Linked DNA regions of Homo sapiens. The protein of the gene in region 3 interacts with the protein of the main gene of each other region in a pairwise test. Each region holds a gene or a part of one and is shown on either strand. Other genes may lie near its edges. The genes, in order: SYPL1, PLIN3, TARS2 and ASB6.

Region 1 (7,031 bases), on a different chromosome or scaffold from region 3:
ATTTGGCTATATCTTAAATTTTGGGTATCTCAAAAAAAACCTTTTTTTTTTTTTCCCCTGAGATGGAGTCTTGCTCTGTCACCTAGGCTGGAATACAGTGGTGTGATCTTGGCTCACTGTAACCTCCACCTCCTGGGTTCAAGCGATTCTCCTGCCTCAGCCTCCCAGTAGCTGGGATTACAGGTGCCCACCACCATGTCCAGCTAATTTTTGTATTTTTAGCAGAGATGGGGTTTCACCATGTTGGCCAGGCTGGTCTCGAACTCCTGACCTCCTGGAGTGATCCACCCACCTCGGCCTCCCAAAGTGCTGGGATTACAGGCATGACCCACTGCACCCAGTCTCTCAAAGAAAATCTTTTAATATTTTTATGGTTACATTAAAAATAGAACTGAAAATTAAATTTAGAAGCTAGACTTTTATAGACAAGAAGCACCCATTATGTAACAATAAAAACCTACTTAAGGAATTTTGGATTATCTCTTTATATGACCACTAATTGGTCATTCTGAGGTGGAAAATTACTTTTTACGTTTCTGAATGATGCAACTAGGTCAGTTTTATAGTTTTATCAGACAAAAACCACCTACAAAAATAGATTGGAATGCTGCTTTAAGAAGGGTAGTATTTTTAAAAGTTTACTAGACAAAATATGAGAAATAAAGGGCACACTGATAGATTTAGTAAAAAAATTTGTTGGGATGACAAAATGGCAAGAAATAGCTTCTAGTTATAAAGAATTTTAACAAAATATAATTATCTATAAGATTATTCCAGTTCCCTTTTAAATAAGATTTGAAAAGTCTGCAGAAGACACAGATTCCTAACAAGTATGTTGGATAAGCACTGCAAATTAAAACAGTTGACGTCTTATCTTTTTAACAACCGAGAAGTATTTTATGAAAACCTCTAGTTTTCTTGTGTCTCCTATGACATAAGAAACAGAATTAAATATGAATGATAAAAGACTGTTGTATTACTTACCATTTCCATTCTTATGATCCAGCAGCAAAATTAAAAATAAATATGTAAATAAAACTTGTAATGTTATTTAATAATCCTTCATATTTAAATAGCCTTCCCTTTAAAGTAACTTCACAAATAATTAGCAGATGTGTTTTCTCATACATATGAATGACCAGTATCACACATAAAAAACACCTCTGTTTTCCCTTTAAGTCACTAATAACTGACTTTGTAGTTACTCTTTTATAGTGGAGGTGTAGCTTAAAACCATGATTTCTCTCTGGATTTGCCACCAATAATCCAGGGCAGATTCTACTAACTAAATCTCAGAGAATATTTCTAGCTCAGTAGGCTCTGAAGCCAAAAGTATAGGACTTCAAATCTAAGTCCTTTGTTGATACCTCAAAGATTCAAAATTAGTTCATGGTTGCCACTAATGCTGAGTATAAGAATTACCTGGGTCTGATTTTAAATTAAGGAGTTTAGGGACATAGACCAGGAATCAACAAACTTCTTTTGAAAAGGGCCAAATAGCAACTATTTTTTATCTCTGTTACAACTACTCAACTTTACCATTGCAGTGTGAAAGCAGCCATAGGCAATGTGTAAATGATTGTGTATGGCTGAGTTCCAAAAAAAACCTTTATTTAAAAAAACAAGGCCAGGCTCCTGGCCACACCTATAACCCCCAGCACTTTGGGAGGCCAAGGCAGGCAGATCACTTGAGCCCAGGAGTTTGAGACCAGCCTGGGCAACATGGTAAAACTTCGTCTTTACAAAAATACACAAAAAGTAACTGAGTATGGTGGCTTGTGACTGTAGTCCCAGCTACTCAGGAGGATCATTTGAGCCCAGGAGGTTGAGGCTGCAGCAAGCCAAGATGGTGCTACTGCCCTCCTGCCTGGGCGACAAAGCGAGACCTTGTCTCAAAAAGTAAATATATAAATAAAGAAGTAAAAATAAAAAATAAGACAGTGACCTCTGGGACATAGTTTGTGAACCCATGATATAATTAAACTCAATAAGTTTTGTAGAAGTATAAAGTGGGCCTTTAGAGAAAGAAAAAAAGTAAGAAGCAGAAAGAGTTATGAGACTATGTTGTGATAAGTAATTCTTCAAATTAAAAGAATTTCGACTTAATTTTTTTGCTATTTGTAACCTGATGTGCTTTATTACATATCTGAGTTTTTTCCAAGTTAAAATAGATTTAAAAAAGAAATAAACTTTCCTTATAGTGCAAATAGGCTAAAAAAAATTGAGTTAAACTTAATGGGAGAAAGCTCAACCTCGTGGCAAACACAGGCTAAAATATGCTGAACTGGCTTACACCAAGAATTTTTATTTCCAGTATAAGAAAATCTATATTTAGCTTATACAAATTATTTTTGTATTTAAAAAATAAAGTGATTACTTACTATCATAGGAAGTTTACGACTATCCAGATACAGACTCGTGTAGCCAACATAAAGCAGAAGGGCAGCAATGCAGTACAGGAACACAAAGACTGCAAAGGTAACATAGAATTGTGCAGAAGAAGAGTAATCGCCTATGAGGACGTAATCTTTCCAATTTACATCACATATGTTTACACCTGGAGGTGGCTGAAATGATGCCTCATTCAACCTATTAAAATAAATGTATGAATTATTGGACTTTCCCAACAGAGACAGAAACATTTAAGCAAAACAATGAGTGACACTTCAAAAAATACTCCCCAAATATATTAAAAACATTCCTTTGGGGAAAAAAGTAAAATTCAAATATTATATTTAAGTAAACTGAAATTTTCATAATAAATGTATATGTTATACCTGGTATTAGTTTATGATACATTGAATATAGACTGAATTAAATACTTTCATACCCAGATACTATCTTCCTGCAGTAAACAATTAGGTAGGAGAGATTATACCAAATGGTTTATACTTTGAGACATCATATTTCATTCTGTGTGGCAGAGTATGTGTGACTAGCCCCAAGAGAGCCAATCACAACAATGATTCACATTTTTAACCCTGGATCAATAGTTGCTAACAATAAATATTGCCTTTCATTTTTCCCAACCATAAATTGTAAAAAACTTGTCACTAAAGATGCTGTAACAGTCCCTTATGTGAGAAGTGTCTAGGAGAAAGGATACAAGATAGAGAGGCTTTGATGATTAACCACTTATTATCTGACTTATCTTTAATATGGGGATTTTATTTAATCATCAAAACAGCCTTACAAGATAATACTTCCAATTACTGGACCAAAAAATTGAGTCTTGGGTGAAGTAAGTAAAATTAGTAAGTGAAAGAAGATTCCCACCCTGGCTTAAACACAGGACATATTCAATAAACTTTTCAATGGATACTGATGTCAAACAAGACTTCACAGATGAAATACTCATTTTACTTTAAGAAAGTGTGGCTTTATGCTAATGAATGAAATATGGAATCTCTTTATATACATATGTCTTAAAACTATATAAAGACATTAATATTCAGCAATTACAAAAAACACTGAGAATCTGGATTTTTCTAAGTTATGTTTCCTTCTACATTAGGGCTTCTTATACTAAGGTGATAGAACAATCTCTAGTTTGCTTTATTTTTACATTTCCAATCCTCTGTTAGAATAAAATTATCAAGGCAACATCACATTGTTATAAAAGTTTCTAAATGCTTACTCTCACTTTCTGTACTATTTTGTCACAGATCAGGAGATGTTTTTAGACAGGCATGGGTCTGTGTACCACAGTTTGGGAGGTAATGATCACTTACAAATGAGCATACAGTCTAAAATTTTCTACCCCCCACAATCAATAAATTGCTGGAAATCTTAATGACTCACTGTGAAAGTAAAAAGAGTTGTGAAACCATTAAAATAAATATAACTCACCTGAATGGATAACCAAAAGTAGCTGTAACAGTTTTATTCTCAGTAACTGCAGGAGGACAATTCACTTGAATTTCTGTTTGGCCCTTAAAACCTCCACAGGTGGCAAAAGCAAAGATAGAAGCAATCTACACAAAGTAAGATGAAAAAAGACAAAAGAAAAAAAAGATAAGCAATACTACAACCAAAACAAGGGTCACTAAAACTGTAAGCACACTGATTATTAAAAATTGGCTAACATTCTAGAAATTCTTTTTTTGAGACAGGGTTTCTGTCGCCCAGACTGGAGTACACTGGCACGATCAGGGCTCACTGCAGCCTTGGCCTCCCAGGCTCAAGTGATCCTCCCACCTCAGTCCCCCAAGCAGCTGGATCACAGGTGTGCATCACCACACCTGGCTAATTTTTCTTTGAATTTTAGTAGAGATGAGGCCTCGCTATGTTGCTCAGATTGGGCTTGAACTCCTGAACTCAAGCAATCCTCCCATCTTGGCCTCCCAAAATGCTGGGATTACAGGTGTGAGTCACTGTGCCCAGCCCCCACTACCCTTTTTTAAAGAGATGAGTCTCACTCTGTTGTATAGACTCAAGTGTAGTGGCACAATCATAGCTTACTGCAGCCCTGAACTCTCAAGTGATCCTCCCAAGTAGCTGGGACTAAGGAGTGTGCCACCATGCCTGGCTACATTCTAGAAATTCTTAAACACAAACTAAGATGGTGAAAGACATTAAAACATTCATTTGCAAACCTCGACAAATGTGATTTTATTTTCCCCGGAGTATAATATAGAAATAAATGTACCAGCCCATATGACAATTCATTTGCTCATACTTTAGTGTATCCACTAAGTATTAGTATGAAATATAGAGGGAGACTCATTTATTAGTATAAAATCAAAAGGGGTGAATTGGAGGTATTTTTATTTGGAACACAAGTTACCAGTAATTTGTAAAGCCAAGAGGTTGTCAGCAGAGAAGAGACACTATTTCATGAGCCTGTTAAACCTCCCTTGTGGGTATTTCCAGGTCTCAAAAAGTTGTTGGAAACTTATTTTCCTAATCATGTATATGCTTAAAAAAATGAATGGTGTTCTCTCAAATACCATCTAAAACACAAAAAACCTAGAAGCAACCTAAATGTTGACAGGGAATCAAACTATAATTCATCCATTCATTCATTCATGCAATGAAACATTATATAGCTGTTGGAAATTAACAACATAGAATGTTGGAGATTAACAACATAGAAAGTGTTCATTACATACAAAGTAGATTTAAACAACAAAAACTAGAAAGGTTATGCATCAAAATTTTAACACTGGTCACCTCTCAAAGGAAGATAAATAATTCCTTTTTATTTTTGTACTTGTGAATTTTCTACAAAACAACACAAGTAAGCAAAAAATTCCAGATGCGCTGTTAAAGTCCAGGAGCTCAATCTTTCAGCAAGTGGTGATGGCTCTATTTTCAAAATACATTTGCAATCTGACCACTTGTACTGCCTCCTGATCTGAACTACCATCACCTTTTGCCTGAATTTTGCACTAACAGCCTTCTAAATGATCTCTCTGCTTCTGCCCTTGCCCCAGCTTCAGTCTGTTATCAACACAACAGCCAAGACAATCTTTTAAAAATGTAAGGCAGAAAATGTTATCCTTTGCTCAAAACCCTCCAATGGCTTTTGAGCTCTCTATGAATAAAAACCAAAGTTCATATAAAGGCCTGCAAGATCCTTTCTTCCCTTATATTTCTGACCTCATGTTGCTACTTTTTCCTTTACCTAATCTGTATACACAAACTGCTTTCCATGCGATACCTTTAATGACACGGGATAAACTCTTCCTTCAGGACCTTTGCACTGGCTATTTCCTCTGCCTGGAATACATGCTTCACTCCCTCACTTCCATAGCTTCCTGTTCCAGTATGACCTTCTCAGAGAGACCTTCCCCTCACCACACTATATCAAATAACAGCACTCCTACCCCGCACTACCTATTCCCTCTACTCTATTTCTGCTCTGTTCTAATTACCACTGCTTGACACAGTACTTAATTTGTCTGTCTTTCCCTAGAATAGAAACTTGAAGAGGTCAGGGGCTTCGTTTTGTTCAAGGTCACACACACTCAGCAACTGGTAGTAGATAATATTCAATGCAGATTTGATATCAAATATTCACTGTGGAACACTTGACATAATGCTTCCCATGGATTATTCCAGGGCCTTGAATCTTGTAGGCCATAATCCACATTATAGTAATTGTCAAGGGTTTGTTTTTTCCCATCCGCCCCCCCCCCCCCCCCCCCCCCCCCCCCCACAAAAAAGATACATGAAAAGAATCTGGTTACAGATAGGAAGAGTCTGAGGTAATGTCCAGCACATAGTTTGGGGTCTTAACTGTTAAGAGGTGATCCCCAGTTTTTACAGGATTTCAAAATATGTAAAAGTAACTTTCCTTGGAAAATGTGTCATGAAATCATTTTTCATTATTTGTACTAAATAATGTTTTATGTTAAAAAAGAAGGTAAAGATGGAAGAATCAATACTCTCTCAGAATAAATATGCATGAATACACAGAGTGAAAAGGCCAGAAAATGAGTCCTGAGCATATACCCACGTTTAAATTAAAAAAAAAAAAAAAGAAAAGAAATGAGATACACAAATTGAACCAATGGAGCAGAATAAAAAGGCCAGGAATAGACTAGTGTGTATAAGACAAATTGTATCTAACAGAGTTGATTTGTAGATCACGGAGGAAAGGAATGTGGTGGTTTTAAAGATATGCCCACAAACTCTTTGATACAACTCCCATCAAGAGATGGAGCCTGATTTCCCTTCCCTTGAGTGTCAACTAAATGTAGTGACTTGCTTCTACAGAATAGAATATGGTACTGTAGAAGAAATGGGATGTCTTTTCTGAGACTCAGTTATAAAAAGATTACAACTTTTTTTTTTTTTTGAGACACAGTCTCGCTCTGTCACCCAGGCTGGAGTGCAATGGTGCAATCTTGGCTCACTGCAACCTCCACCTCCCAGATTCAAGGAATTCTCCTTCCTCAGCCTCCTGAGTAGCAGGGGTAATTACAGGTGCCTGCCACCATGCCCGGCTAATTTTTGTATTTTCGGTAGAGACGGGGTTTCACCATGTTGGTAAGGCCAGTCTCGAGCTCCTGACCTCCGGTGATCCA
Region 2 (7,031 bases), on a different chromosome or scaffold from region 3:
TACAGAATGGCAATGCTGACCTGGGGTTAACACCTGAAGGCCCAGAACAGCACATGGCTTGTAGCAAATGTTGGCTCTTAACATTAAAAAAAAAAATTTTTTTTTTGAGACAGGTTCTCACTCTGTCACCCAGGGTGGGGTGCAGTAGTGTGATCATGGCTCAACTGCAGCCTTGAACTCCTGGGCTCAAGTGATCCTCCCATCTCAGCTTCCCAAGTAGCTGGGACCACAGGCATGCACCACCATGCCTGGCTATTTTTAATTTTTTGTAGAGACGAGTTTTCACCATGTTGCCCAGGCTGTTCTCAGACTCCTGGGCTCAACAGATCCTCCTGCCTCAGCCTCCTGAGTAGCTGGGACTAGGTGCATCCACCACGCCTGGCTAATTTTTGTACTTTTTGTCAAGACGGAGTCTCGCCATATTGCCCAGGCCGGTCTCCAACTCTTGGGCTCAAGCAATCCTCCTGCCTCAGCCCCACAAAGTGCTAGAATTATAGGAGTGTGCCACTGTGCCCTACCTCAGTTTCCCTTAATCACCGCTTTTTAAAGACCCTGTCTCTAAATACAGCCACATTCTTACCCCTGGGGATCAGGACTTCAACATAAGAATTTGGGGTTGAGGGGGCCATAATTCAACCTATAACAGCCTGGGATGAAAAAATGAGGCACAGACCAGGCGTGGTGGCTCACGCCTTACTCCCAGCACTTTGGGAGGCCGAAGCGTGCAGATCACTTGAGATCAGGAGTACGAGACCAGCCTGGCCAACATGGTGAAACCCTGTGTCTACTAAAAATTCAAAAATCAGCCAGGCGTGATGGTGAGTTCCTATAATCTCAGCTACTCGGGAGGCTGAGGCACGAGTATCACTTGAACCTGGGAGGCAAGAGGTTGCAGTGAGCCGAGATCGTGCCACCACGCTCCAGCCTGGGCAACAGAGCAAGGCTCTGTCTCAAAAAAAAAAAAAAAAACACCCTCCTTCAGATAAGTGTGAGGCTTAATCGGTTATTGTTTGTCTCCCCAGCTGGGACCAGGGCACAGGCTGCCTGCTTTGTGGCTGTGTCCAGTGCCCAGCAGGCAGCCTGGCACAGGGTAGATGCTTATTTTTTTAGTTTTTTGAGACAGAGTGTTGCTCTTGTTGCCCAGGCTGGAGTGCAATGGTGCGATCTCGGCTCACTGCAACCTCCGCCTCTCGGGCTCAAGCGATTCTCCTGCCTCAGCCTCCCGAGTAGCTGGGATTACAGGCATGCACCACCATGCCTGGGTAATTTTATCTTTTTAGTAGAGATGGGGTTTCTCCATGTTGGTCAGGCTGGTCTCGAACTCCCAACCTCAGGTGATCTGCCTGCCTCGGCCTCCCAAAGTGCTGGGATTACAGGTGTGAGCCACCGCGCCCTGCAGATAGATGCTTATTAAGTATTCAGGTGCTCCATGTCCGCTTCAGCCCAGTGGTTACAGAAGGGCCACCCTCGGGTACCACCTGCTTGTGTCTGGGTCTGTAGCATCAGAAATAGGTGATCCCTGGGTTGGAGGCAGGACAAGCCAGCCGCATCCCAGCATCCTTGGACTTTCCCTGAGACCACCTGCAGGGACAGGCAGCTTATTCATCCACTTGCTATTGAGTGCCTACTGTATGCCGGGGAGCTGTGCTGTCCCATCATGGTTAGACTTCCTCACCTCCCATTTATGCAGAAATGGCCTTAGCTGGGAAACAGCAGAGCGGTTGTCAACTTGCATTTTTTTTTTTTTTTTGAGACAAGGTCTTGCTCTGTAGCCCAAGCTAGAGTGCAGTGGCGTGATCTTGGCTCACTACAGCCTTGACCTCCTAGACTTAGGCAATCCTCCCAGCTCTCAGCCTCCTGAGAAGCTGGGACTACAGGTGTGCACCACCACACCTGACTAATTTTTTAATTTTTTGTAGGAATGGGGTCTTGCTATATTGCCCAGGCTGGTCTCAAACTCCCAGGCTAGCCAGGCACGGTGGCTCACGCCTGTAATCCCAGCACTTTGGGAGGCCGAGGCGGGCGGATCACGAGATCAGAACAACAGAGCGAGACTCCATCTCAGAAACAAAACAAAAAACAAACTCCTGGGCTCAAGCAATCCTCCTGCCTGCCTTGGCTTCCCAAAGTGCTGGGATTATAGTTGTGAGCCACTATGCCCAGCCATGCCTACACCTTATCAGCAAAGGCCAATAGTGGGCTTGGCTGAGGGGGGATGGAAACTGCTGAGCTTACAGGAAGATGGGAAACGTCAACCAGGAGCCCCCGTCTCAGGGCCAAGCCCTTGCTTCCCTTTCTCTCCCACTGATAGCGTAGGAGGCCAACAGTCTTTCTGTTTATAGAAGGGATAAGCTCAGGGTGAATTCTTCAAGGTCACTGAACAGAGCAGCAGCTGGGAGCTTTTTTTTTTTTTTTTTTTTTTTTTCAGATGGAGTCTCGTTCTGTTGCCCAGGCTGGAATGCAGTGGCGTGATCTCAGCCCACTGCAACCTCTGCCTCCTGGGTTCAAGTGATCCTCCTGCCTCAGCCTCCCAAGTAGCTGGGATTATAGGCGCCCATCACTACGCCCAGCAAATTTTTGTATTTTTAGTAGAGATGGGGTTTCACCATGTTGGCCAGGCTGGTCTCGAACTCCTGACCTCAGGTGATCCAGCTGCCTTGGCCTCCCAAAGTGCTGGGATTATAGGCGTGAGTCACCGTGCCCGGCCAATTTTTGTATTTTTTGTAGAGGTGAGGTCTTACTATGTTGCCCAGGCTGTTCTCACACTTCTGGGCCCAAGCGATCCTCCCACCTCAGCCTCCCAAAGTGCCGGGATGACAGGTGTGAGCCACCGTGCCTGGCCTGCTGTGAGCTCTTGACTTTTTGAGAGGTGCAATGCTCTCTCAATTCTGGGCCCTATGAGTTTTTTCCCCCTTTGTGAAGAGGTAACTTTCCCCAGGTTCTGGGGGACGGTGGTGTTGTCAGAGCTAGATTTTAATCCGGGCCAGTGTGAGAACGTGCGTGTTCACTGAGTAGTGGGGCTGTTAGAACCTGACTCTCATCGGGGGCGTTGGCTCATGCTGGCTCACACAGTGAAACCCCGTCTCTACTAAAAATACAAAAAATTAGCCGGCCGTGGCAGTGCACGCCTGTAGTCCCAGCTGCTGGGGAGGCTGAGGCAGGAGAACCGCTTGAACCTGGGAGGTGGAGGTTGCGGTGAGCCGAGATAGTGCCACTGCACTCCAGCCTGGGTGACAAGAGCAAAAACTCTGTAAAAAAAAACAAAAACAAAAACAAAAAACTTGACTCTCACACCCTCTTCCCCCACAAAAAGATGAACTCTCATGAGTACAAGAGGACTGAGTCTTCAGGGAAGCACCAACTTGGGTAGGAATGGGGCAGGTGTGGTTTTCAACTTTGCGGAGAGCCCTCTGCATAGAGATCTGTCTAAAGACTTAGCTTCAGCTGGACACAGTGGCTCATGTCGGTCATCCCAGCACTTTGGGAGGCCAAAGCAGGAGGACTGCTTGAGGCCAGGAGTTCGAAACCAGCCTGGGCAACATGGAGAGTCCTTGTCTCTACAAAAAATAAAAAAATAAGCCGGGTGTGGTGGTGCGTACCTGTAGTCTCAGCTACTTGGGAGGCTGAGGTGGGAGGATCGCTGGAGCCGAAGAGGTCAAGGCTTGAGTAAGCTATGATTGCACCACTGCACTCCAGCCTGAGTGACACAGTGAGACCCTGTCTCAAAAGAAAAAAAAAAAAAAGACTTAGATTCGAGAACAGCAGGTATTGACAGATGAGCGCTCACCATGTGCTGGGTGGGGCGTAGTCAAAGGATTCCATGCAAAGCTTTTTTTTGTTTGTTTGTTTTTGTTTTTTTTTGGAGACAGAGTCTCTCTCTGTCACCCAGGGTGGAGTGCAGTGGTGCAGTCTCGGCTCACTGCAAACTCCACCTCCCGGGTTCAAGGGATTCTCCCGCCTCAGCCTCTTGAGTAGTAAGGATTACAGACATGCACCACTGCACCCGGCTAATTTTTTGTATTTTTTGTCTCTACAAAAAATAAAAAATAAGGCTGGGCGCAGTGGCTCATGCTTGTAATCCCAGCACTTTGGGAGGCCCAGGCAAGTGGATCCCCTGATGTCAGGAGTTCAAGACCAGCCTGGCCAACATGGTGAAACCCGTCTCTACTAAAAATACAAAAATCGGCTCGGCATGGTGGCATGTGCTTGTAATCCCAGCTACTTGGGAGGCTGAGGCAGGAGAATCACCTGAACCCACGTGGCAGAGGTTGCAGTGAATCGAGATTGCACCATTGCACTCTAGCCTGGGCAACAAGAGTGAAACTCCGCCTCAAAAAAATTAATAAATAAATAAAAATAAAAGATAAAAAATAGCCACGAGTGGTGGTACGTGCCTGTGGTCACAGCTACTCGCTGGGGAAGCTGAGGTGGGAGGCTCACTTGAGCCCAGGAGGTGGAGTTTGTAGTGAGCCGAGATTGTGCCACCGCACTCCACCTGGGTGACAGAGGGAGACTCCATCTCAAAAGAAAAAAAATTAAATTGAAAAAAAAAAACAAAAAACAGGCAGAGTGCAGTGGCTCATGCCTGTAATCCTAGCACTTTGGGAGGCTGAGGTGGGCGGATCACTAGGTCAGGAGTTTGAGACCAGCCTGACCAACATGGTGAAACCCCATCTCTACTAAAAATACAAAATTAGCCTGGCGTGGTGGCGCATGCCTGTAATCCCAGCTACTCGGGAGGCTGAGGCAGGAGAATCGCTTGAACCCAGGAGGCGGAGGTTACAGTGAGCCGAGATCACACAATTGCACTCCAGCCTGGGCAACGAGAGTGAAACTCCATCTCAACAACAGCAACAACAAAAAACAATTAGCCAGGCATGGTGGCGGGCACCTGTAATCCCAGCTGCTTCGGAGGCTGAGGCAGGAGAACTGCTTGAACCCGGGAGACAGAGGTTGCAGTGATCTGAGATGGTGTCACTGCACTCCAGCCTGGGCAAGAGAGCAAGACCCTGTCTCCAAAAAAAAAAAAGAAAGAAAGAAATGAGGTACAGGGAGGTAGAGTGACTTTCCTGAAGCCACACAGCTGAGAAGTAGCTAGCTAGGAACGGAGCCTAGGTAGTCTGGCTGCAGAGTATGAGGTCATGCCCACAACTCCAGACTCAGGGTCACCTGGGGGATGGCGCTCCCTGCCTCAGTCTCCCTGGAAGTTGGGGTGCAGGGGAGGGGTGCCCACATACAGAGGGAAGACGGAGATGCTGGGGTCACCCGGGGGATGGCGCTCCCCGCCTCGGTCTCCCTGGAAGTTGGGGTGCAGGGGAGGGGTGCCCAGATATGGAGGGAAGGCAGAGATGCTGATGCTGTTGCATCTCCTAGGTCCTGGCGGACACCAAGGAGCTTGTGTCGTCTAAGGTGTCGGGGGCCCAAGAGATGGTGTCTAGCGCCAAGGACACGGTGGCCACCCAATTGTCGGAGGCGGTGGACGCGACCCGCGGTGCTGTGCAGAGCGGCGTGGACAAGACAAAGTCCGTAGTGACCGGCGGCGTCCAATCGGTCATGGGCTCCCGCTTGGGCCAGATGGTGTTGAGTGGGGTCGACACGGTGCTGGGGAAGTCGGAGGAGTGGGCGGACAACCACCTGCCCCTTACGGATGCCGAACTGGGTAAGTGTGGCCAGCGGGCTGCTCTGGGACCCCTCCCCAGGCCCCCTGACCGGAAGCCGCTGTCGGCCTCCTGGGGTCTGTGCCGACACTCACTGCCGCCTCGTCCCTGCCACTTCTCCCGGGCATCTTGGAATCTCATCACTAACGCAGTCCCCTCTGTCCTGCTCACCAGCTCCCGCCCTCATCCACCACAGTCTCCTCCCCACAGCAGCCACCAGAGGGCGCCTGTGACCACCTGAGTCAGAACCCGTCCCTCTGCCCACAGCCCTCCATGGACCCCACCTCCCCTGGGGTCAAAGCCCAAGTCCTCGTCACAGCCCACAAGGTCCTGCACAACCTCCCCTGTCCTCTCCCCGCCCTCCTCCTCTTCCCCCTTCGCCACTCCGCTCCTGCATAAATACGTGACTAAACTTGAGATCTCACTGAACTGTGACAACAATGCTGGTGTTCCCGCCAGGCCAGACATCCCACTCCAGTCATCTCGGTCACATATTCGCACTCCCTGCACTGTTTATTTGATATTCTTCTTTAATTAATTTATTTATTTATTTAGAGACAGAGTCTCGCCCTGTCACCTAGGCTGGAGTGCAATGGCGTGATCTCAGCTCACTGCAACCTCTGCCTCCTGGGTTCAAGCGAGTCTCCTGCCTCATCCTCCTGAGTAGCTGGGATTACAGGCACCTGCCACCACACAGCTAATTTTTTGTATTTTTAGTAGAAACGGGGTTTCACTATGTTGGCCAGGCTGGTCTCGAACTCCTGACCTTGTGATCTGCCCACCTCGGCCTCCCCAAGTACTGGGATTACAGGTGTGAGCCACCATGCCCGGCCCTTTTTTATTTATTTGTTTTAGAGATAGAGTCTCACTCTCTTGCCCAGGCTGAAGTGCAGTGGTGCGATCATAGCTCAATGCAGCCTCCAACTCCTGGGTTGAGGCGAGCCTCCCATCTCAGCCTCCGAGTAGCTGGGACTACAAGCACACACCATCACGCCCAACTAATTTTTCTTTATTTAATTTTTGGTAAAGACGGGGTCTCCCTCTGTCATCCCAGCTGATCCAGAACTCCTTGGCTGGAGTGATCCTACTGCTTTAGCCCCCCAAAGTGCGGGGATTGGGATTTTTGCAAATAAGTAGCTTAGGATATAGGCAGGGCGCGGTGGCTCAGCCTGTAATCCCAGCACTTTGGTGGGCCGAGGTGGGCAGATCACCTGAAGTCAAGAGTTTGAGACAAGCCTGGCCAACATGGTGAAACCCGGTCTCTACTAAAAATACAAAAATTAGGCCGGGCACGGTGGGTCACGCCTGTAATCCCAGCACTTTGGGAGGCCAAGGCCGGGCGGATCACAGGTTCAGGAGATCGAGACCATCCTG
Region 3 (7,031 bases):
GGCCCTCAGGCCATGCTGATTGCAACCACAACCTATTAAATACCAGGTCCCATCTCTATGCTCCCCGACTGCAGACCACACAATTGTAGTATTAAAGGTCACCAGCACTTTCAATATTTATGTTTATGATTCCAAACCAGCCCCCCCACCTTTTTTTTTCTCTTCAAGACGGAGTCTCACTGTATCACACAGGCTGGAGTGCAGTGGCTCAATCTCAGTTCACTGCAACCTCCCCTTCCTGGGTTCAAGGGATTCTCCTGCCTCAGCCTCCCCAGTAGCTGGGACTACAGGCGCTGCCACCACACTGGCTAATTTTTTGTATTTATTTTAGTAGAGACAGGGTTTTGCCATGTTGGCCAGGCTGGTCTCGAACTCCTGACCTCAGGTGATCTGCACGGCTCAGCCTCCGAAAGTGCTAGGATTATAGATGTGAGCCACTGTGCCCGGCCCCAACCCCCATCTTTTAACACAAACACCTTAGCTTCTTCTAGTCCCTCAGCCCCTCCCTGGTCTTCTTTCCTCTAGACCTGGGTCCCCTTACCCTGATAAACGCCACTAGTGCATTATACACCCTTGTCCCTCGTGGCAGGAAGAAGCAGCTCCCAGGGCTCAGTTCATGGAAGAAGAAGAGCTCCTGTTCCTGGGGTCAGGAATAGCAATATTGGGTCACCTCAAGGGCAAGGAGGTGGCTTTGGAACTCAGAACAACTGACGGAGCTGCTCAGTCTGTGTGACTGAATCTGCTCCCAATTTCATAATCAGGTTCTGTCATCTCTCTCCAACCCTTATCACCATCCCTCCCTATCTTCCCAATTCCTGTACCTTCCCAATGCGCCGGTGGTCCCGCAATTCTGCTTCCTCCCTCCATGCTTCCCAGACCCTCAGCAATTCTGTTGTGGGGAAGGAAATCCCTGACACTCTCTGCAGTGTCTCTGGGGCCCCTGAAGACCTCCATAAGGATGATGAGTTCTGTGTGAGGACATAGGGGATCAAAGGAAAGATGAGGACTGAAGGCCCCCACCTTTTTCAAGACTCAAATGATACTCTCAGTGTTAAGTGTCACAGGTATGCCTCTTGACAACAATCCCACCAGTAGGATGAACACCTCCATCCTCTAGACACCATTCTTCTAGATTAAAGTGTTGAAATTGCCTGACTCTTAATTCCTACATACAACCTGGTCAGGCCTAACCTTACCTTGCCATCTCTTTTTCTCCCCATTCTCATTACCCCTTTACTTAGTTCCTTCCCATTCTAATCAATGACTGCTTAGAGGAATAACCATAAGCTCTGGTCAAATGTCAGTCTATTCCTCCATTTATCAATATCCTATACAGCTGCTAGAAAAGTCAGTCTTCTATACCATATCCCATTCCTGGCCACATGAAATCCAAAAGCCTCTGCCTGCTCTCTCCTTTAACAGTACTAATGAGCCGGGCGCGGTGGCTCACGCCTGTAATCCCAGCACTTTGGGAGGCCGAGGCGGGCGGATCACGAGGTCAGGAGATCGAGACCATCCTGGCTAACATGGTGAAACCCCGTCTCTACTAAAAATACAAAAAAATTAACTGGGTGTGGTGGTGGGTGCCTGTAGTCGCAGCTACTCGGGAGGCTGAGGCAGGACAATGGCATGAACCCGGAAGGTGGAGCTAGCAGTGAGTCGCGATCGCACCACTGCACTCCAGCCTGGGCGACAGAGCAAGACTCCATCTCAAAAAATAACAAACAAACAAACAAACAAAAAAGTACTAATGAGAGGCCGGGCGCAGTGGCTCACACCTGTAATCCCAGCACTTTGGGGGGCTGAGGTGGGTGGATCACAAGGTCAAGAGTTCAAGACCAGCCTGACCAACATGGTGAAACCTTGTCTGTACTAAAAATACAAAAATTAGCCAGGTGTGGTGGCACGTGCCTGTAACCCAGCTACTCAGGAGGCTGAGGCAGGAGAATTGCTTGAACCTGGCAGGCAGAGGTTGCAGTGAGCCGAGATCAGGCCACTGCACTCCAGCCTGGGCAACAGAGCAAGACTCTGTCTCAAAAAAATAAAAATGAAATAAAATAAAACTGTTAAACAGTACTAATGAGAAACAGTCTATACGTGTGTGTGTGTGTGTATATACATCTGTCACCCAGGCTGGAGTGCAGTGGCGCGATCTCGGCTCACTGCAAGCTCCGCCTCCCAGGTTCACGCCATTCTCCTGCCTCAGCCTCCCAAGTAGCTGGGACTACAGGCCACCACCACCACACTCGACTAATTTTTTTTTTCTTTTTTTGAGACGGAGTCTCGCTGTCGCCCAGGCTGGAGTGCAGTGGCGTGATCTTGGCTCACTGCAGGCTCCACCCCCCAGGGTTCACGCCATTCTCCTGCCTCAGCCTCCCAAGTAGCTGGGACTACAGGCGCCCGCCACCTCGCCCAGCTAATTTTTTGTATTTTTAGTAGACAGGGTTTCACCGTGTTAGCCAGGATGGTCTCGATCTCCTGACCTCATGATCCGCCTGCCTCAGCCTCCCAAAGTGATGGGATTACAGGCGTGAGCCACTGCGCCCGGCCACACCTGGCTAATTTTTTGTATTTTTAGTAGAGACGGGGTTTCACGGTGTTAGCCAGGATGGTCTCGATCTCTGGACCTCGTGATTCACTCGCCTCAGCCTCCCAAAGTGTTAGGATTACAGGCGTGAGCCACCACGCCCAGCCCCTATATGTATATTTTTTGAAACAGAGTCTCACTCTGTTGCCCAGGCTGGAGTGCAGTGGTGCAATCTTGGCTCACTGCAACCTCTGCCTCCCAGTTCAAGCAATTCTCCTGCCTCAGCCTCCCGAGTAGCTGGGACTACAGGTGCATGCCACCACGCCCAGCTAATTTTTTATTTTTAGTAGTGACGAGGTTTCACCATGTTGGCCAGGCTGGTCTTGAACTCCTGAGCTCAAGTGATCCGCCCAACTTGGCCTCCCAAAGTGTTGGGATTACACGTGTGAACCACCGCACCTGGCCGACAGTCTGTATTTTACAGCACTTTTTAACTTTTCCTTTTTCCTGAATTAGTTGGTTTTCATTATCTTTTTTTTTTTTTTTTTTTTTGAGATGTTGTCTCGCTCCGTGGCCCAGGCTGGAATGCAGTGGCACAATCTCAGCTCACTGCAACCTCTGCCTCCTGGCAGAGTTCAAGTGACTCTCCTGCCTCAGCCTTTTTTGTAGCTGGGATTACAGGCGTAGGCCAGCACACCCAGCTAATTTGTGTATTTTTAGTAGAGACAGGGTTTCACCATGTTGGCCAGGCTGGTCTCGAACTCCTGACCTCAAGTGATCCGCCTGCCTCACCCTCCCCAAAGTGCTGGGATTACAGGTGTGAGCCACCATGCCTGGCCTGGTTTTCATTATCTTTATGAGGTGAATTTACTGGTAGGACAAAAAGGAATTAATAGCCTCATTTTATAGATGGGGAAAATAAGTAAGATTTACCCAAGGCCACCGCGCCATGGGGTTTTGCCATGTTGGCCAGGCTGATCTCAAGTGATCCACCCACCTTGGCCTCCCAAAGTGCTGGGATTATAGGCATGAGCCACCATGCCCAGTCTAAGTTCAGAGCTTTTTGCTCTACACATCTGCATTTCCCCTTGCTCCCTTGTAACTCATCCCATTCCATCTAGTAACTCTTCTTGTCCAGAACAGTATTTTCTTTTCTTTTTTTTTTTTTTGAGACGGAGTTTTGCTCTTGTTGCCCAGGCTAGAGTGCAATGGCACGATCTTGGATCGCCACAACCTCCACCTCCCAGGTTCAAGTGATTCTCCTGCCTCAGCCTCACAAGTAGCTGGGATTACAGGCATGTGCCACCACGCCCAGTTAATTTTGTATTTTTAGTAGAGACGGGGTTTCTCCATGTTGGTCAGGCCGGTCTTGAACTCCCGACCTCAGGTGGTCCACCCACCTCGGCTTCCCAAAGTGCTGGGATTATAGGCGTGAGCCACCATGCAGAACGGTATTTTCATAAAAAGCATGCCCTTTACTAAAGGTATTTTCCCTGTGCCTGTCAAATGGTGTTCATCTTCCTCCTGGACCACGCCCCCTCTCTCTACAACCCTTCCCTGTATGACCCATCCAGCTTGCTCACACCCTCCTGCTCCACCCCTCCACCCCCCTTAATACTGACATCATATTAGGGCATCTGAATTGGCTTCTGGGCCCTAGCAGGCTGTCCAGTGTGTGCCATCAAACGGGTTTTTAGAATGTGGGGACAAAGTTTCTTTCTCCTGTATTCCCCGCTCAGCTTATGAGAGTACAGGGCCAGGCTCAGTGGCTCATGCCTGTAATCCCAGCACTTTGGGAGGCTGAGAAGGGAAGATCACTTGAGATCACCCTGGCCAACATGGTGAAACCCTGTCTCTACTAAAAATACAAAAAGTAGCTGGGCATGGTGGTGCACACCTATTATCCCAGCTACTCGGGAGGCTGAAGCAGGAGAATTGCTTGAATCCAGGAGGCGAAGCTTGCAGTGAGCCAAGATCGCGCCACTGCACTCCAGCCTGGGCGACCGAGAGACTTGGTCTCAAAAAAAAAAAAGGGGGGTGCCGACAGAAAGTATCACCTTCCGATTCTCCTGCTCATCCCAGTGAAACCAGGAATTTTTTTTTTTTTTTTTTTGAGATGGACTCTCGCTCTGTTGCCCAGGCTGGAGTGCAGTAGTGCAGTCTCGGCTCACTACAACCTCCGCCTCCCAGGTTCAGGCAACTCTCCTGTCTCAGCCTCCCGAGCAGCTAGGACTACAGGTGTGTGCCACCACACCCAGCTAATTTTTGTATTTTTAGTAGAGACGGGGTTTCACCATATTGGCCAGGCTGGTCTCAAACTCCTGACTTTATGATCCATCTGCCTCAGCCTCCCAAAGTGCTGGGATTACAAGCGTGAGCCACCATGCCCGGCTCAAAATAGGAATCTTAACCTAACTCTGTCCCACAACTGACCGATAGCAGCTTCAGTCCTCCAATCTGTCCAGTATGCCGAAGGTGGGGGCCCTGGCAAAGGTCAACCAATGTGCCACACCTAGGAGAAAGAAGAGGCCAGTTAGTGATTTTCAGAATCTTCAGCTTCTAGCTTTCTCCCTCTCATGGTCTTTAGCTGACAGAAGAGGTGAAGAGAAAGGAACTGTCCTACTGAGAGAGGGCAATGGCAGATAAAAATCAATTCCCTGGCAGGGCGCGGTGGCTCATGTCTATAATCCCAGAACTTTGGGAGGCCAAGGTGGGTGGATCACGTGGTCAGGAGTTCGAGACCAGCCTGGACAATATGGTGAAACCCCGTCTCTACTAAAAATATAAAAATTAGCTAGGCATGGTGGTGCATGCCTGTAGTTCCAGCTACTCGGGAGGCTGAGGCAGAAGAATTGTTTGAACCCGGGAGGCAGAGATGCAGTGAGCCGAGATCGCGCCACTGCATTCCAGCCTGGGTGACAGAACAAGACTTCATCTCAAAAAAAAAAAAAAAAAAAAAAACTAGCCAGGCATGGTGGCACATGCCTGTAATCCCAGCCACTCTGGAGGCTAAGGCAGGAGAATCACTTGAACCCAGGAGGCGGAGGTTGCAGTGAGCCGAGATCGTGCTACCGCACTCCAGCCTGGGAGACAGACCAAGACTCCGTCTCAAAAAAAGAAAAAAAAAAAATCAATTCCCATTCCCATTTCTTTTTCTGGAGCAACACAAATTACCTTCTATCTTTCTTCCCTTATCGCATTTCTGGCCTTCTTCAATGCTTCCCCACCTCTCTGTTTGCCTTAATCTTGACAACTCTTACCCATATACTGTTGCTGTTGGACCTGTCACTTTCTCCTCAATCAAGTGAAGCTTAAAGGGGTTATCCTGGAAAAAGGTAGAAGGGAGATTGAAGAAAAGTGTTTATTCCCACAAAGATGTCCTGGAAGAGCCACCTCTTCCCTCCACCCCACCTTGAACAACTGGCGAAGCTGATCCCGTGAAGCCTCTAGCCTCCGGAAGGGTCGAGCAGCAGCTGTAAGTTCCTGGCAAATCCGCTCCAAAACAGGCAGCTCTGAGCCCCGGATTGTCCTGGAAAGAGGAGAATTGGTTGGGTTGCATCCTATGAGGTGCATCAATCACCTGGGTGACACACCTGTTGGCTAGCGGGTAAGGTCCTGTCCTTCAAGAGAAATCTAGAGTTATAGGCAAAGACAGACAAACTCAGAGAAAATATAAATAGGATATCAGGTAACAGATATTACAGCTGGAGAAAAAGCTCTATGCATGAAGTTAAAAGTTGAATGCAGGAAATCTGGATAGACAAAGTTAGAACAATAGTAATGAGGGCGATTAAGTAAAACTTGAATTTATGAAAGCTAACAAGTAACAAAGTAAGTTGTTTCTTCTTTTTCTTTTTGTTTTTTTTTTGAGAAAGTGTCTTGCTGTGTCACACAAGTTGGGTGCAGTGGTTAAGATCATGGCTCACCACAGCCTCAACCTCCCAGGCTCAAGTGATCCTTCCACCTCAGCCTCCCAAGTAGCTGGGACTACATGTGCACCAGCCAAGAAGGTAAATTTCAAGCAAAGTTAGAAGAGGGACATGGACTAGCACAGAAGGAGATACTAATGTCATAGTTGAGACCTAGAGAAACCCTTCTCCTCCAGCTTCCTCATCCAAATGGAGCATGCCCAAGGCCCCTGAAAAGAGCCTCAGAAACCATCCCAGAATCATTCTCCTCCTTCCTTTCATTACTCACCTCTCCTTTCCCAGGAAGAAATCATGGTAAAAGCCATATTCTGTACTTGGACCTCTGCAGAGAACAGCACCTAGGAATTGTTCAGCTGCTGCCCCCAGGACATGGGTGCTGGAGTGCCAGAACACCTGGGTTCACAAAAAAGGGGTTCACAAGTTCATAAACTTCTCCCTTAACCCCTAGATCTCTGAGCTCTTCCTCACAAAAGCTGGTAGGAAAGCCGGTATGGTTCTTCTAGGAATAACTACCACAAAATGGGGATCCTAGATTTTGGGGGTGACCACTAAAAAGTAACAAGCTTAAAAAAAAA
Region 4 (5,078 bases), on a different chromosome or scaffold from region 3:
GTGGAGCTGGCATTGGGAGGATCACCAAGCGGCTGCTCCTGCCGCTGTTCAGAGAGGTGGATATGGTCGACATAACGGAGGACTTCCTGGTTCAAGCCAAGACCTACCTGGGGGAGGAGGGCAAGAGGGTGAGGAACTACTTCTGTTGTGGGCTCCAGGACTTCACCCCGGAGCCGGACTCTTACGACGTGATCTGGATCCAGTGGGTGATAGGTGAGGGTTCCACCGCCCTTCCCTGCTCACCTGTATGTCTCCTGCCACTCGCGTTCCCCATAAGGTGTCAGGACCAGGGCTTTGCACTCCTGCAGCAAGTGGGCCAGTGAGGATTCCCCACCCCGCCCAGGCCCACCCCCACCCCGTACTTCCCAGGACTGAGGGACAGGCTCGGCCTAAAAGGTAGATTTCTTCCTTCTAGGTTTTGTTTCAGTTGAATACCTGCTACCATCCATTTGGGTGCAGTTTTTTGTTGAAAAAATTTTAATGGCCAATAACTTACTGCATTCAAAGTGAGGAGTTTTATAAGGGTTTTATTTTTAATAAGATGAATAGTTTAAGCTTCGTGTCTAGCCCTGCACCCTCTTAGCCTAACAGCACACCTCGAGCGCTGTGCCCTGGGCTGCTGACGTGGCGGCAGGCCGCTAGCAGCAGTCGGCCACCTCCTGAGGCGGGCAGCACAGGCCTGCTGTGGACACTCTAGGTCTGGCCTTGTATTTTGTGGTCTCAGAAGCCTTTGTGGGGACTTCTAGTGTAGGGAAGGCAGTCTCTCTGGGAGCTCCTGCAATGCCAAACTCTTAGCCCAGGTTCACTCCTCCGATCCAAGCCTGGCAGGGGTGGGGCATCATGGTGTGTAGGTATCAGGCAGGACTTGTAAGCCATCCCGTCAAGTCAAATTCTGGCTTAATGTGTCTTTAGGTAGATGACCTCTGAGCCACAGTTTCCTATTCTATGAATTGGGGTTTAGTAAATCTCTCGGGACTGAGAGCCAATGAGGCCATGTGTGCACACAAAATGCTGGGCACAAATGAGGGGCTCAGCGGGGCTGAGAAGTACATCCCATCCAGTGCCGACATCCGCTTGCATGGTGCCCTGGTAACCTTGCCTCTGCCCTCCCCAGGCCACCTCACCGATCAGCACCTGGCCGAGTTCCTGCGGCGCTGCAAGGGCAGCCTCCGCCCCAACGGCATCATCGTCATCAAAGACAACATGGCCCAGGAGGGCGTGATTCTGGACGACGTGGACAGCAGCGTGTGCCGGGACCTTGACGTGGTCCGCAGGATCATCTGCAGTGCAGGCCTCAGCCTCCTGGCCGAGGAGAGGCAGGAGAACCTCCCCGATGAGATCTACCATGTCTATAGCTTTGCCCTGAGATGAGCCGGGGCTGGCAGGAGAAACTGAGGAACCACAGTCCTGGTGGGGGGAGCTGGCAGCTGGGCAAGATCCAGGCGCCACGCTGGCGGTTCGTGAGTGTCGAGGCACCACTAAATATAGCTGTCTGCCGTCCACTCATTATGCGGGCTCTTCTTCAAAAGGCAAGGTGGGACCCGGCGGGGAGGGTGCTGCTGAACCAGCGGTGAGGCAGGAGCCCAGACCCTGCTCTCCTGCGAGATGGGATTGGGTGGAAGGGGCTCCAGGGCTCCTGGTGCTCCCCATGTGGGAATAGGGTGGCCACATCAGTAACCGATTCCCTGGGCCTCCAGCCCGGCCTTCCAGCCATGGGCCTGGCTGCCTGAAGAGGAAGGAAACCACCCCCAACTTGGTTGCTGGGGACTTGAAGACTTCAGTGTGATCTTTACCTAGGGGAGGGACAGAGCTGGGCTGGTGGAGCCCATGGGTGCTGCCTGATGGTGCTGTGGGGTGGGTGCTCATGTGCCAAGTCCTGCTTGGCAGTGGAGACCTGGGGCCCTTAAAGTGTTACAACAGCCTGCAGCAAGGGAAGTTCCCCGTAGCCTCAGTCTTCTCTGGGCTTGAGGCTGCTCCTTGGCAGGCATTTAAAGTAAAAAATAAAATGGGGCTGGGCGCGGTGGCTCACGCCTGTAATCCCAGCACTTTGGGAGGCCGAGGCGGGCAGATCACGAGGTCAGGAGATTGAGACCATCCTGGCTAACAGGTGAAACCCCGTCTCTACTTAAAATACAAAAAAAAAAAAAATTAGCCAGGCGTGATGGCGGGCGCCTGTAGTCCCAGCTACTCAGGAGGCTGAGGCAGGAGAATGGGGTGAGCCCGGGAGGCAGAGCTTGCAGTGAGGTGAGATTGCGCCACTGCACTCCAGCCTAGGTGACAGAGCGAGACTCTGTCTCAAAATAAAACTAAAATAAAATGGGGGCCGGGCACAGTGGCTCATGTCTGTAATCCCAGCACTTTGAAAGGCCGAGGCAGGCGAATCACCTGAGGTCAGGAGTTTGAGACCAGCCTGACCAACATGGCGAAACCCCGTCTCTACTAAAAATACAAAAATCAGCCAGGCATGGTGGTGGGCACCTATAATGCCAGCTACTCAGGAGGCTGAGGCAGGAGAACTGCTTGAACCTGGGAGGCAGAGGTCGCAGTGAGCCGAGATTGCACCATTGCACTCCAGCCTGGGTGACAGAGTGTCTCGAAAAAAAAAAATAATAAAATGGGACCTCCACACTGTGGAGGCCCTTGCCAGTCTAGAGTGGTGCTTCTTTGCAGGGACTTGGAAACAACCCCCCAAACACAGCATCCCCTCACACCTGCCACCCACTTCCTTACCGGCTGCTGTGGGAGCCTCTATCCTGAACTATGGAGGGGCGGGGTGGAAATTTTATATAAGGACCTTGTTAAGGCCAAGAAAGTCAGTTTAATCTTATAATATAAATATATCATTTAGTCACCTCAGCTTATCCCCAGAGGTGTTTACACAATTCCCAATGACCAGTGCAGCTTGGAAGGGACTGAGGCTCGCAAGTGGGTGGCACAGTCGGCTCTTCAGTGGCTCCAAAGTGAGCCCCTCACAACAGGAGACACTTCAGAGAGGTCTGTCCCCAGCCACGCACTCATGATTGCTTTTTAGCAGAAGTCATGGTCGCTGAGGCCCTGGGTTTGGCAAAAGCACAGCTGCCAGCAGAGCACAGTTCTGGTAGGTGGGGCCACGGCTGACCTGGCCCCAGAGCTACAGGAACAGGCAGGGGCCAGCTTGGCTTGCAACACCATGAAACAAGCCTGTGGGGCCCTTAGTGTCTTCTCCCGCAGAGCCCACCAGAAACACTTCTGTGAGTAACAGAACCTGGAAGGAAAAGGGGCAGGGGTGGGGCCTTGGTGGCACCGCACAGGACGTGCCCCAGGCTTCCTCTCCAGCTGCACTGCCACGTGCGGCCAACAAGAGCCCCGCAGCCCTGGGGTGCTGAGGCTTGGTCCTTCCCAGCTTCTGCAAATGCCCTGGCACTGCCCTCCAATTCAGAGGGTATAAACATCAATCCAAGCCCTGTTCCTCTTTCCAACATGGGGGGGACTTGGAGTGCCGCTGGAGGGAAGGGGGCAGTCTCTCTGGAAGAACCAGAGCTGCACCCTTCACCACTGGAGTGATCACAGCTTCAGGCTCTACCTGGCTGGCTTTTCTCATGAAGGATCCCGTCTCATCTCCCAGATCAAAAAGACCCTCTTCTAATGCTGTCCCAGCATCTACCAACAGGCTGACCTGAGCTGCCCGTGTCCCCCGTTCCTGTAGCCTGAGACCTATCAGATGTCATCTTCCACGGAGCCACTGTGCTCGCTAAGGAGGTACCACTTCAGCCTGTCGGGCAGAGGCAGGGCTTTGACCTTCACATCCACAGGCCACGGCTGAAGGTAGAGCCGGATGGCCACACGGCACAGGTGCTTGAGGGGCGGGGGATAGCTCTCCAGCTGCCTCAAGGAGAAGTGGAGGGCCTGGATCTTTTCCGCCAGGCTGCCCACAGGGTGGATATCGAAGTTTTCGGGCAGCTGGAGTTTCTGAGAGTTGGTCACCATGAGATCCAGGACAGTCTCAGCTTTGCGCAGGAGGTCCGCATGGCTCTCGTCTTCCGTGCAGCCTGGGTGGGAACAGAGCCTCTCAAAGATGATGTGAAAGCCAGACCAGCAGGACGCACCGTGCAGGGAGCAGTTGTAGGCGGCTCCGGACTCCAGGAGGAAGCGCAGGAGAGGGAAGTGCAGTTTAAAGCTCTTCAGGCAGATGTGGGTGAGGGACTCGTGGGCTGGGCACTCGCTGGGGTCGGCCCCGTGTGCCAGCAGCAGCCGTGTGACTTGGAAGCAGAAGCGGTTGATCATCTGGGCCTCCTCTTTGTCCCCTCCCACGGTCTCACCAAGCAGGAAGATGATGCAGGTGAACACTGTGTCCCCATCTTTGGTGGTGGCCTTGACGTCTGCCCCTAGAAGAGCCATAGAACAAGAGATGCTGGGAGAAGGCCTTCAACCCTGGCAAAGCAACAGCACACATCGAAGGGGCGGGTGAGAGGACGAGGCCTAGGAGCGCGCCAGCCTCACCTCCTTCCAGTAAGAGACGAATGTTCTCAGTATTGTGGATCTGCACCCCGTCGCTGCTGGCCAGAGCATGGAGCAGAGCAGTTTTTCCTAGGGAGGGAGGGAGAGCAAGGAGGAGCAGGAGGCCAGGAAGCCCAGGTCAGGGCAACCCAGAGGAGGTGGCAGAAATCCAGACACTCAGAGGATCAGAAGATGAACTTTCAGAGACAACTCTCAGCTCAGGTGAGGGCTGAGGGTGACAGGCTTCTGGCCATTCCCTTTCCACCCAGAGAAGTGGGAGCGGAAAGGCCAGGAAAGGTAGGATTTTTCTGGACCCCAAGATGCTACCTGAGATGTTGGCTGGGCCTCTCCCAATGGGAAGCCATTGTTTCTTGGAAACTAAGTGCACACATGCCCTATTTCTTCCTATAGAAGGCCCTTGAGGGCCAGCACAGGGACAATGACTGCACTGCCTCTCTGAAGCCTCTGAGCTCAGCAAGTCAGCAGAATCCCTGTGTGCCCAGCCATGCTGTGCCACCAGCCAGGGCCAGCATCCAGTCTGCCCACCTAGCTGTTGTCCTGGGGCACCCTGGGTGTCCCCCACAAGGTGCCTGGGGGCCCAG

What was found.
Region 1: the proteins of TARS2 (region 3) and SYPL1 interact in binary tests that used the Homo sapiens proteins (3 or more experiments, as listed by UniProt).
Region 2: the proteins of TARS2 (region 3) and PLIN3 interact in binary tests that used the Homo sapiens proteins (3 or more experiments, as listed by UniProt).
Region 4: the proteins of TARS2 (region 3) and ASB6 interact in binary tests that used the Homo sapiens proteins (3 or more experiments, as listed by UniProt).

What each region holds. Positions count from the first base shown.
Region 1 is NC_000007.14:106,095,309-106,102,339, forward strand, and holds part of SYPL1 (synaptophysin-like protein 1), read right to left. Parts: intron 3,975-7,031; coding exon 3,850-3,974; intron 2,590-3,849; coding exon 2,382-2,589; intron 1-2,381.
Region 2 is NC_000019.10:4,850,644-4,857,674, reverse strand, and holds part of PLIN3 (perilipin-3), read left to right. Parts: intron 1-5,373; coding exon 5,374-5,659; intron 5,660-7,031. UniProt on the Homo sapiens protein: Structural component of lipid droplets, which is required for the formation and maintenance of lipid storage droplets. Required for the transport of mannose 6-phosphate receptors (MPR) from endosomes to the trans-Golgi network.
Region 3 is NC_000001.11:150,490,419-150,497,449, reverse strand, and holds part of TARS2 (threonine--tRNA ligase, mitochondrial), read right to left. Parts: intron 6,850-7,031; coding exon 6,725-6,849; intron 6,057-6,724; coding exon 5,939-6,056; intron 5,853-5,938; coding exon 5,788-5,852; intron 5,106-5,787; exon of another isoform or gene 5,040-5,105; coding exon 4,961-5,039; intron 969-4,960; coding exon 822-968; intron 641-821; coding exon 542-640; intron 1-541. UniProt on the Homo sapiens protein: Catalyzes the attachment of threonine to tRNA(Thr) in a two-step reaction: threonine is first activated by ATP to form Thr-AMP and then transferred to the acceptor end of tRNA(Thr). Also edits incorrectly charged tRNA(Thr) via its editing domain.
Region 4 is NC_000009.12:129,634,094-129,639,171, forward strand, and holds the end of ASB6 (ankyrin repeat and SOCS box protein 6), read right to left. Parts: intron 4,567-5,078; coding exon 4,480-4,566; intron 4,365-4,479; coding exon 3,697-4,364; 3' UTR 1,372-3,696; coding exon of another isoform or gene 1,115-1,371; 3' UTR 512-1,114; downstream 1-511. Other genes in the region: NTMT1 (N-terminal Xaa-Pro-Lys N-methyltransferase 1), read left to right, coding at 1-213, 1,115-1,371. UniProt on the Homo sapiens protein: Probable substrate-recognition component of a SCF-like ECS (Elongin-Cullin-SOCS-box protein) E3 ubiquitin-protein ligase complex which mediates the ubiquitination and subsequent proteasomal degradation of target proteins.